Linked DNA regions of Homo sapiens. The protein of the gene in region 2 purifies or fractionates together with the protein of the main gene of each other region. This does not show direct contact. Each region holds a gene or a part of one and is shown on either strand. Other genes may lie near its edges.

Region 1 (4,996 bases), on a different chromosome or scaffold from region 2:
TAAAGTTACAGTTATCCTATATTGTAAAGATACAGCTTACACTTTAGAATCTGACAAGCTCAACCCTTCCAAGCTAATGGTGCTCCTTTAAATTTGTTTCCTGTGGCTTATAGGAGAATGGTAAATCATGAAATAACTAGAACTTAGGAAAGGTATAAACTCCTTTTATATTTGATTACTCTCAAATTTTCATTTGTCTGAATATGTAATGTTAAAAAAATAATTTCACTAAAAGGGAATCAGGACATCTTGGAGGATGACTGATTCTAGGTCTGGAATTAGAAATGTACAAAATGAGCCTGGATGGGGCATCTTGTCATAAAGGAAAGTATGGAAAATACCAGGTCATATCACAAGGATTCAGGAGCTCAGTTCCCACTGGTCAAGACTGGAAGAATATGAACTTTAAAAAGCGTAACTGAAGTGCTTTGAAACTGTAGTAGATGGATATGAAGAATTATTGTTCCTTTTGCCCTGTCGCACTCCTGAAAGCAAGATGATTCACCAGCAGCTCTACTGGAGCCACCCGCGAAAAGTCAGCCAGGGTTCTTGCTATTGTGTCTGCTGAAACTGGGCACAGTCTGATCTGGAAATTGAGCCTCGTTACATGCCACCAGTGTTTCCATCATACGTGAAGGATATAGATTTCATTAAGTTGGACTAAGTGATCTTCCACGAATGGATTATCTAAGGCACCCACCCAATGAGAGAAACCATGTTAGCTTTTTGTACATAAAATAAATATTTTAAAATAATTATTGTTATTTTTTATTTTTATTTTTGAGATGGGGTCTCTCTCTGTTCCTCAGGCTGGTGTGCAGTGGCATGTTCGTGGCTCACTGCAGCCTCCGCATCCCAGGCTCAAGTGATCCTCCCACCTCAGCTTCCTGAGTAGCTGGGACCACAGGCGCACACCACCATGCCTGGCTAATTTTTAAAATTATTTATAGAGACGAGGTCTCACTATGTTGCCCAGGCTGGTCTCACACTCCTAGGCTCAAGCAGTCCTCCCACCATGGCCTCGCAAAGTGCTTGGATTACAGACGTGAGCCACTGGGCCTGGCTTTTTTGTTTTTGTTTTTGTGTGTTTTTTTGAATGTGATAAAGGTAGTGGAAAAAAAAAAAGACACTTGCCTGTGCGTGGTGGCTCACATCTGTAATCCCAGAACTTTGGGAGGCCAAGGCAGGTGGATCACCTGAGGTCAGGAGTTCGGGACTAGCCTGGCTAACATGGTGAAACCCCATCTCTACTAAAAATATAAAAATTAGCCGGGAGTGGTGGCGCACGCCTGTAATCTCAGCTACTTAGGAGGCTGACACATTAGAATTGCTTGAACTGGGGAGGCAGTGGTTGCAGGAAGCAAAGATGGTGCCACTGAACTCCAGCCTGGGCGACAGAGTGAGACTCTGTCTCAAAAAGAAAAAAAAGGATTCTTAAGATACACATTAAAATATTATAGATGAAGCTGGGCACAGTGGCTTATGCATGTAATCCCAGCACTAGGATTAACATTTTTTCATAATAAAAAGCTTTTTCTAAAACTATAGAGACCTTGTTGAGAACAGCACTACAATTTTTTTCTTGTTTTTTTTGGATGGGGACAAGGTCTCACTCTGTCATCCAGGCTAGAGTGCAGTGACGTGATCATGGCTCACTGCAGTCTCGACCTCCTGCTTCAGCCTTCTGAGTAGCTAAGACTACAGGTGTGCACCACCACACCTAGCTTTTTAAAACAAATTTTTGTAGAGAGGATCTCGCCATGTTGTCCAGGCTGGCCTTGAACACCTGGTCTCAAGTGAATCCTTACACCCCAGCCTCCCAAAGTTCTGAGATTGCATACCTGAGCCACCATGTCTGGCCTACAGTTTCTTTTCTTTTCTTTTCTCTTTTCTTTTCTTTTTTTTTTTCCTTTTTTTTTTAGACACAGGAGTCTCGCTCTTGTTGCCCAGGCTGGAGTGCAATGGTGTGATCTCAGCTCACCGCAAACTCTGCCTCCCAGGTTCAAACGATTCTCCTGTCTCAGCCTCCTGAGTAGCTGGGATTACAGACATGCACCACCATGCCTGGCTAATTTTTTGTATTTTTAGTAGAGACGGGGTTTCTCCATGTTGGTCAGGCTAGTCTCAAACTCCCGACCTCAGGTGATCCGCCTGCCTTGGCCTCCCAGAGTGCTGGGATTATAGGCGTGAGCCACCGTGCCCAGCCAGTTTCTTTAGTAATTCATTTCTGTGACAGTTACCACTGTGGGGACATTTGTTCTTGCATCAAATCACTGTTAGTTAAGGCTATTCATGTTCTGTCCAACAGCTTGGCACCAACACCTGCTTACTTTCCTTTTCTCTTTTACCCTCTCTTCTCAGTTCTCTCTTTCCAGACGTAGTGAACTGTATGCAGACTGACAATCTGGAACTAAAGAAGCTTGTGTATCTCTACTTGATGAACTACGCCAAGAGTCAGCCAGACATGGCCATCATGGCTGTAAACAGCTTTGTGAAGGTAACTTTTCCCAAGGCCTCAATAACAGAGTTTGAATTGCAAATAAGTAACCTCTGTTCACAAGGAAGGAGTGTAGGGAAGTGTTGGCAATGACTAGGAATGTTCATGTTTTAAGCATTCTGTATACCAGTGTGTGTCATCCAGGGAAATTCAAACCATGTGCTGAGCTTTCTGTTAGTGGGGCTTGGTGCATCCTTGCCAGATGGGTAGAAGAAAACCTGGTGAAACCCCACTGTTTTACCTTCTGAGGCTGACAAAGGTGGGCATATCATTGTACTATCAGTAATTGGGGGCTTTACCTATTTTATCTTTGTAGAAATTATACTTATGAGTCAGCAGTAGTGGAGACTGCCGGAGTTTCTACTTTCATTTCATTTAATACGTCTTACATCATTTGATTAATTTTTTTTTTTTTTTGATACAGAGTCTCACTCTGTCACCGAGGCTGGAGTGCAGTGGCACGATCTTGGCTCACTGCAACCTCTGCCTCCCAGGTTCAAGTGATTCTCCTGCCTCAGTCTCCCAAGTAGCTGGGATTACAGGTGACCGTCACCATGCCCAGCTTATTTTTGTATTTTTAGTAGAGACAGGGTTTCACCATGTTGGTCAGGCTGATCTCGTGCTCCTAACTTCAAGTGATCCACCCACCTCAGCCTCACAAAGTGCTGGGGTTACGGACACAAGCCACCACTCCCGGCGTGATTAATTTTTTTTAATGGAAAATTTTAAACATATTCAAGAAAAAGGACTAGTATAATAAATTCCTAAATATCCGTCTTGCAGTTTTAACAGTTACCGACACATAACCACTCTTGTTTGTAATCCTCATACATATTTTCTGACCTCCAACCCCCTCTCCTGCTGGATAATTTTAAAGAAATCCTGAACATCATATATTAAATAGTTTTGTCTTTATATTTGTCAAGATAAGATCTTTTATTTAAACATAACCACAATATCATCATGTCTTTAAAAATGGACAAAATATTTTCTTATTATTGAATATCCAGTCAAATCTTTCCTATCATAGATTTAAAGAAAATAATAATGGGATCATTCCCATTAATTTTTTTTTTTTTTTGGTGACAGAATTTCACTCTTGTTGCCCGGGCTGGAGTGCAATGGCGCAATCTCAGCTCACCACAACCTCCGCCTCCCGGGCTCAAGTGATTCTCCTGCCTCATCCTCCCGAGTAGCTGGGATTACAGGCATGCACCACCACACCTGGCTAATTTTGTATATTTAGTAGAGATGGGGTTTCACCATATTGGCCAGGCTGGTCTCGAACTCCTGACCTCAGGTGATCCGCCCACCTTGGCCTCTCAAAGTGCTGGGATTACAGGCGTGAGCCACCATGTCCAGCCTAATATTTTTTTAATAGTTGTTTTTTCTCTGTTTGGAACTTAGTGTACATTTAAAAAAAACAGACAGCATTTCTAAAATTAGCTTCTATTTAAAATGTTTTGAAAAATAAGCAATATGCTTTCTTCTTTCTCATGAACTTTTTGTTCTTTTCCTGTGTTTAGCTACATTATAGAGTCAGAACGTAACAGTTTGTTCTCCATGACTGGTGGTTCATAGAGGGAATATATCATTGGGAAGAATTTAGTTTACATTTTTTGGAAGTTAGAGTTGTGCATAGATTTACATGGGCTTAAAGACATTTTTTTAGTGTAAGGCAGTTTAAAAGAGTGTTCTTTCTCCATATTCTATTTACTATATTTGGAAGCACTTGCTAGTAAAAGAGAATGTATGTTAGCCAAGAGCTCAGAGGGCCTTCTCTGCTGCTTAACTCCAGGTACTTATTTCAAGCCCAGACCAGCTCCTGTGCTCCCCTTTGTTTTCTTGGCTGCAGGCCACAGAAATCTAGCTCTCTTTTCTATTTGATGTTTAGGAACTCACTGTGGAGTAGGGCACGGTCTTTACAGCTCCTCTTTTTTTTTTTTTTTTTTTTCCTGTGCCGGAATACAAGCCCAAAAGCTTTTCCTGTTTTTAGGGTAGATCCTAATGGCTGTGGGATGGTACGAACTCCCTAAACCTCTGCCTGGCACTAGAGTGAATCCTGCTGAGCTGTTTCTCATTTTGTATTTAAAACAGTTAAATGACTTCTTCACCTAAACTCTTAAATAGGGCAGCTAAGATTTGTACTTAGGAAAGGAATAGCATGGAAGATTGGAGCTCATGTAGAATGTATCTGGAAGCTTAAATTAATGAGGTAATTCTTTTGCAGCTTACATAAACTGGACTGTTTACTTTTAGCCACCATGTATACCTACAGTTGTTGGTGATTGTTTTCTGCAGGACTGTGAAGATCCTAATCCTTTGATTCGAGCCTTGGCAGTCAGAACCATGGGGTGCATCCGGGTAGACAAAATTACAGAATATCTCTGTGAGCCGCTCCGCAAGTGCTTGAAGGATGAGGATCCCTATGTTCGGAAAACAGCAGCAGTCTGCGTGGCAAAACTCCATGATATCAATGCCCAAATGGTGGAAGATCAG
Region 2 (4,996 bases):
AAAACCTCAGGGTATTTCTATATGTGAACTTACTGTTATTTATTTTACTGGCCACCTAATGCTGGACATTTATTTTGTTTTCAATCTTTTGTTACAACTATGCTGCAGTGGATACTCTTTTACATGTTTTTGTGCACATGTGTGAGCATATGGATTAATTTCTAGTAGGTGTAATTTTTGGGCCAGAGGATACTTTTAATCTGCATAGATACTGCTAATTTGGGGTAGGCATAGTGGCTCAGGCCTATAATTCCAGTGCTTTGGGAGGCTGAGGCGGAAGGATTGATTGAAGCCAAGAGTTCAAGGCCTGGGTAACATAGTGAAATCCATCTGGGACAAAAAAAAAATTTTTTTTAATTAGCTGGGCATGGTGGTGTGTGCCCGTAGTCCTAGCAGGCTACAGGTGAGCTATGATTAGCAGGTTACAGTGAGCTATAATTGCACCACTGCACTCCAGCCTAGGTGACAGAGCTAAGACCCTGTCTCCAAAAAAAAAAAAAAAAAAAAAAGATATTGCTCATTTACATTCAGAAACACTGTAGCAGCACACATGTTTGAGAGTGTCATTTCCTCCACAGCTTGATCAACATGTATATTATTGTCAGTCCAGTAATCAGAAAGATTTCAAACAATTTCATTGTTTTAGTTTGTTATTTCTTTATGGGTAAGGCTGAACTTATTTTTTTTTCCTTTGAAACCATTTGTATTTCTTTTTTTATAAACTGCTTTAGTCTTTTACCTGTTCTCTTGATGGGCTGTTTGTCTTCTTTCTCACTGATTTGTAAGAACTCTTCTTATATTTAGGAAATTTGCCCTTCTTTGCAAAATCCTTTGCAAAATTTTTTTCTCTGAATTTTTTTTTGTTTTTGGCATTTTTTGATTATGTAGAAATATTTGTTTTATATGTTTAATTTGTCAGTCTTTTCTCTTAGAGCTTCTGCAAAATCTAGATTTTTAAACTTCAGGAGCAGAGGCAGACTAATATAACTGCAAGAGCACACCTGTTCTGCCCCTGAGTAGTTCTGTGATCTTGGGCAAATTACTTAACCTCTTAAGTGCACTCATTTGCATATTAGAAATAAACTACTGAGACTTCTTGGGTATTATTGAGACCTCTTAAGCATGTTGTGATTACAAAATGAACTGGTGACTTATTTTCTTTAGCTACTCCTGTAGTTTCCCAATTTGTTAAAAGCTGGCCTTGTACCCTGCCTCATATACTCTGCTTTCCTATCACATAAATGTGAACTTCTGAATATTTTGTGCAAAAGTAGGATAGAAATGAGGTAGAAGAAACTCATTTTTGTGATATAAATAAGGCTTTCAAATGAATCAGAGGTGCAATTAAAAAATAAAAGTTGGGCTCTTTTTAAAACTTGTTTTTATGTGGTAAAAATATACAAAGAAAAGTAAGCCTCACTTCCTCCCTCCTTTAAACTGGGGATTATTACAATGGGAATATAACAGTACCAGGAGTTTTTCATCTGAAATAATCAAACTGCTTATTCCTTACTAAATCTGCAATAAGAATACAAATTTGACCAAGAATGCTAGGATAAGAACATATTTTTTGGAGGAAGACGTTTATATTACAGTACTTTATAGTTTTTTAGATCATGGTTTCTCAGCCTTGGCACTTTGAGATTTTGGGCTGGAGAATTTCTTGTTGTGGGAGGCTGTTCTGTGCATTGTAGGGTGTTTTGCAGCATCCTTATCCATTAGACGTAACACCTTCACCAGTTGCAGCAATCAGAAATATCTCCAGACACTGACAAATATTTCCTAGAGGATTAAATTGCCTCTGGTTTAGAATCACTGGTTTATTTATTTATTTTTATTTTAAAGTTTTAGTACTTTTGAGAGAGAGTCTCGCTCTGTCGTCCAGGCTGGAGTGCAGTGGTGTGATCTTGGCTCACTGCAACCTCCACCCCTGGGTTCAAGCAATTCTCGTGCCTCAGCCTCCCGAGTAGCTGGGATTACAGGCGTGCATCACCACGCCTGGCTAATTTTTTTTGTATTTTTAGTACAGATGGATTTCACCATGTTTTCCAGGCTGGTCTCTATCTCCCGACCTCAAGTGATCCTCCTGCCTTGGCCTCCCAAAGTATTGAGATTATAGTGTGAGCCACTGCGCCCGGCCAAATCACTGGTTTAGATATATACTTATTTATTTATTATTATTTTTTGAGGCGGAGGTCTGGCTCTGTCGCTCAGGCTGGAGTGCAGTGGTGTGATCTCGGCTCACTGTAACCTCTGCCTCCCGAGTTCAAATGATTCTCCTGCCTCAGCCTCCCAAGTAGCTGGGATTATAGGCGCCCACCGCCACACCTGGCTAATTTTTGTGTTTTTAGTAGAGACGGGGTTTCACCATGTTGGCCAGGCTGGTCTCGAACTCCTGACCTCAGGTGATCCTCCCTCCTCAGCCTCCCAAATTGCTTGGGATTACAGGCGTGAGCCATCGTGCCCGGCCTAGATACATACTTTCTGTGGTCCATTAGGACATACAAGATATACTTTCTAGGGGTGAGGACAGGGGAAAGAGTTTATCTTCATATTTTTATTCTTAAGCCTGCCATGAGCCATGATTGACTCCTTGTGCATAAATATTGAGCTTAAAAAACTTAAATGAGAAGGCAACCTGAAATTGTGAACTTAATTTTATGTGTGATTTCTGTGCCTTTTTTAGTGTGATCTCCTCCCTCTTCCGGCTCCACTGTAGTTTGGAAACTTAGTGTGGTCTTCTTTTAGTTGTGGAACAGTTCTATCTAGTGGGCTAAGTATCAATACAGAGATCCTGGAAGGAAAACATTCTTATGCCACTGTTGAGAAGGAAGAGGACTGATGCTTCTAGAACACCTAATAAATACTAAATACTTTTAGATGATCTACATACATTATTTCACTTAATCTTCATAGCCTTTCTACAAGTAGGCATTAATCTTCTGTATTACTTGCTCACGGTTGTATTTTAAGTGGGAGAGTTGAGACTTGAACCCAGGCACATCTGTTCTCCAAGTACATTTGCTATGCTGCTTCCTATAGTCATTGATGATATTTCAGTCAAATTTTGGGATAAGAATGAACATTCATGTGATCTTACATTCCTCTATTGTTATGTAAAAGAAATTATCCAGTGGTGTGTGTGTGCGTGTGTTTGTGTGTATTGGGGAGGAGGTCAATAGTGGGATAATAACAATAATACTTACTGAGCACACTTACGTGTCATGTGCTATTTTCAATAATCTTTACAACCTGATGAACCTTTCAGTATTCTTTACAACTTGGTAATCCTTATATCCCTGTTTTACAAAAACAAAACAAAATAAAAAACTGGGACACAGAGGTGAAGTAATTTGTTCAAGGTCAAACTGCTGCTAAGTGGTAGAGCCAGAATTGTAACCCAGTAGTCTAAGCAACTCGGATATTGATTGAATGAGTCTGCATTTTTAAGGGCAAAATGGCTCTGACAGAGCTTATTGTGGTACCATTCCTTGGTTATAGCTGAACATATGTTGTAGGCTACTACATCTTCCTATGTGAAAATCAACTTATCATTGCATACACCACATCTCTAGAAAGTGATTGTTGCACGAAGTTATAGTGGAAAGTTTTTGTAGACATAGTAGAAGGTAGTTTTTCATTTTGCAACCTCCAGATTTATTGCTCATGAAAATCTAAGCTTGTCTAGGTTAGTGTACATCATACCAATATTTACTTTTAAGCTAATATTCTCTCAGACATGGTTATTTGGACTTGGAGTTTCTACAGTATTGTATTGCTAAAGATAAAATGTATCAGAGACTCCCTATAAAATAGACTTTTATTGACTAAAACCTGGAACCATTAGCTGTAATGATTTCTGATCCTCAGATGAACATTTTTGAGAACTAGCATAAAATAATGAGAGAGATCTTGGGCTCTGAAGTTAGAATGTCTTAGGTAAATTGATAGATTTTAGTTATATGAGCCATTAATTTTTATGAAATGTTGCACTTAATTAGAATTTTGATGGATCATTTATACTAAGGATTATTGATAACTTCATTCCATCTTTTGTTCTGTAGGTACAACATAGATATAGCATTATGCATATATAAAAAATATGAAATTATATGCATTAAAGGTGCTTCCAGTATTGATGGTTGATCCTCTGTTTCAGAAAACATTTACTAGATGCCTCCTGTGTGTCACTACTCTAGTAAGCCTTGGACATACAGAATAAGACCATGACATTTGCTCTGAAGTAGCTTTTGGTTTTTTAGGGAGATAAACACTGACTTTCTTGTGTGACAAGTACTGTGATAAAGGATGATAGAAGTAAGGCAAGGGGGTGCCATGAGAGAATACTGTGATTATGATGAAACTTTTGGTGGTAATATAGTTTTTAATTATTTAATGGTTTTATAGGATCCAGGGTTGTTACTGTAGAGGATATTTAAACTGTACTTGAAAGGATAACATAAATCTATAGGAACATTTGATTCAAGTTAAATTGTATTTTGGTGCATAGAGTTCATATTGTGGGATATAACATCAATTTTCTTATGAGATTCCTTGTTTTATCTTTTTTTTGTAATAAAGGAAGAATTTTTAACTTTGACCATAGAGCATAGGAAGGGGACTCAAGGATAGACTTCAAAAGATCTGTGATCTACTCCAAAACAGTAGGTAAAATATTTTATATATATATTTTAACAGAGTGTCAAGATTCTCATCCCAGGGACACTGAGAGAAGTTTTACGTAGTGGGAAGAACACTGGATATAGTACAAGACAAACCTGGATTGAATTGTAGCTCTGCCATTTGTGACATCTCTGAGTGATCATGGCAAATTACTTAAACCCTTTCATTTGCTTATGTATGATGTATACACATTGTTGAGATATAGGAGACATTTGATAAATAGAATTGCTTGTATTATTATTAATACTTACCTGCAGAATTTATATGTATTTGTTTAAATTTTCTCTTTCTTTCTTTCTTTCTTTCTTTCTTT

The links.
Region 1: the proteins of EPS15 (region 2) and AP2B1 purify together in Homo sapiens (affinity purification with mass spectrometry; 3 studies listed by BioGRID and IntAct, with this or other methods). This does not show direct contact.

The regions. Positions count from the first base shown.
Region 1 is NC_000017.11:35,603,344-35,608,339, forward strand, and holds part of AP2B1 (AP-2 complex subunit beta), read left to right. Parts: intron 1-2,361; coding exon 2,362-2,497; intron 2,498-4,798; coding exon 4,799-4,996. UniProt on the Homo sapiens protein: Component of the adaptor protein complex 2 (AP-2). Adaptor protein complexes function in protein transport via transport vesicles in different membrane traffic pathways.
Region 2 is NC_000001.11:51,508,357-51,513,352, reverse strand, and holds part of EPS15 (epidermal growth factor receptor substrate 15), read left to right. Parts: intron 1-4,996. UniProt on the Homo sapiens protein: Involved in cell growth regulation. May be involved in the regulation of mitogenic signals and control of cell proliferation. Involved in the internalization of ligand-inducible receptors of the receptor tyrosine kinase (RTK) type, in particular EGFR.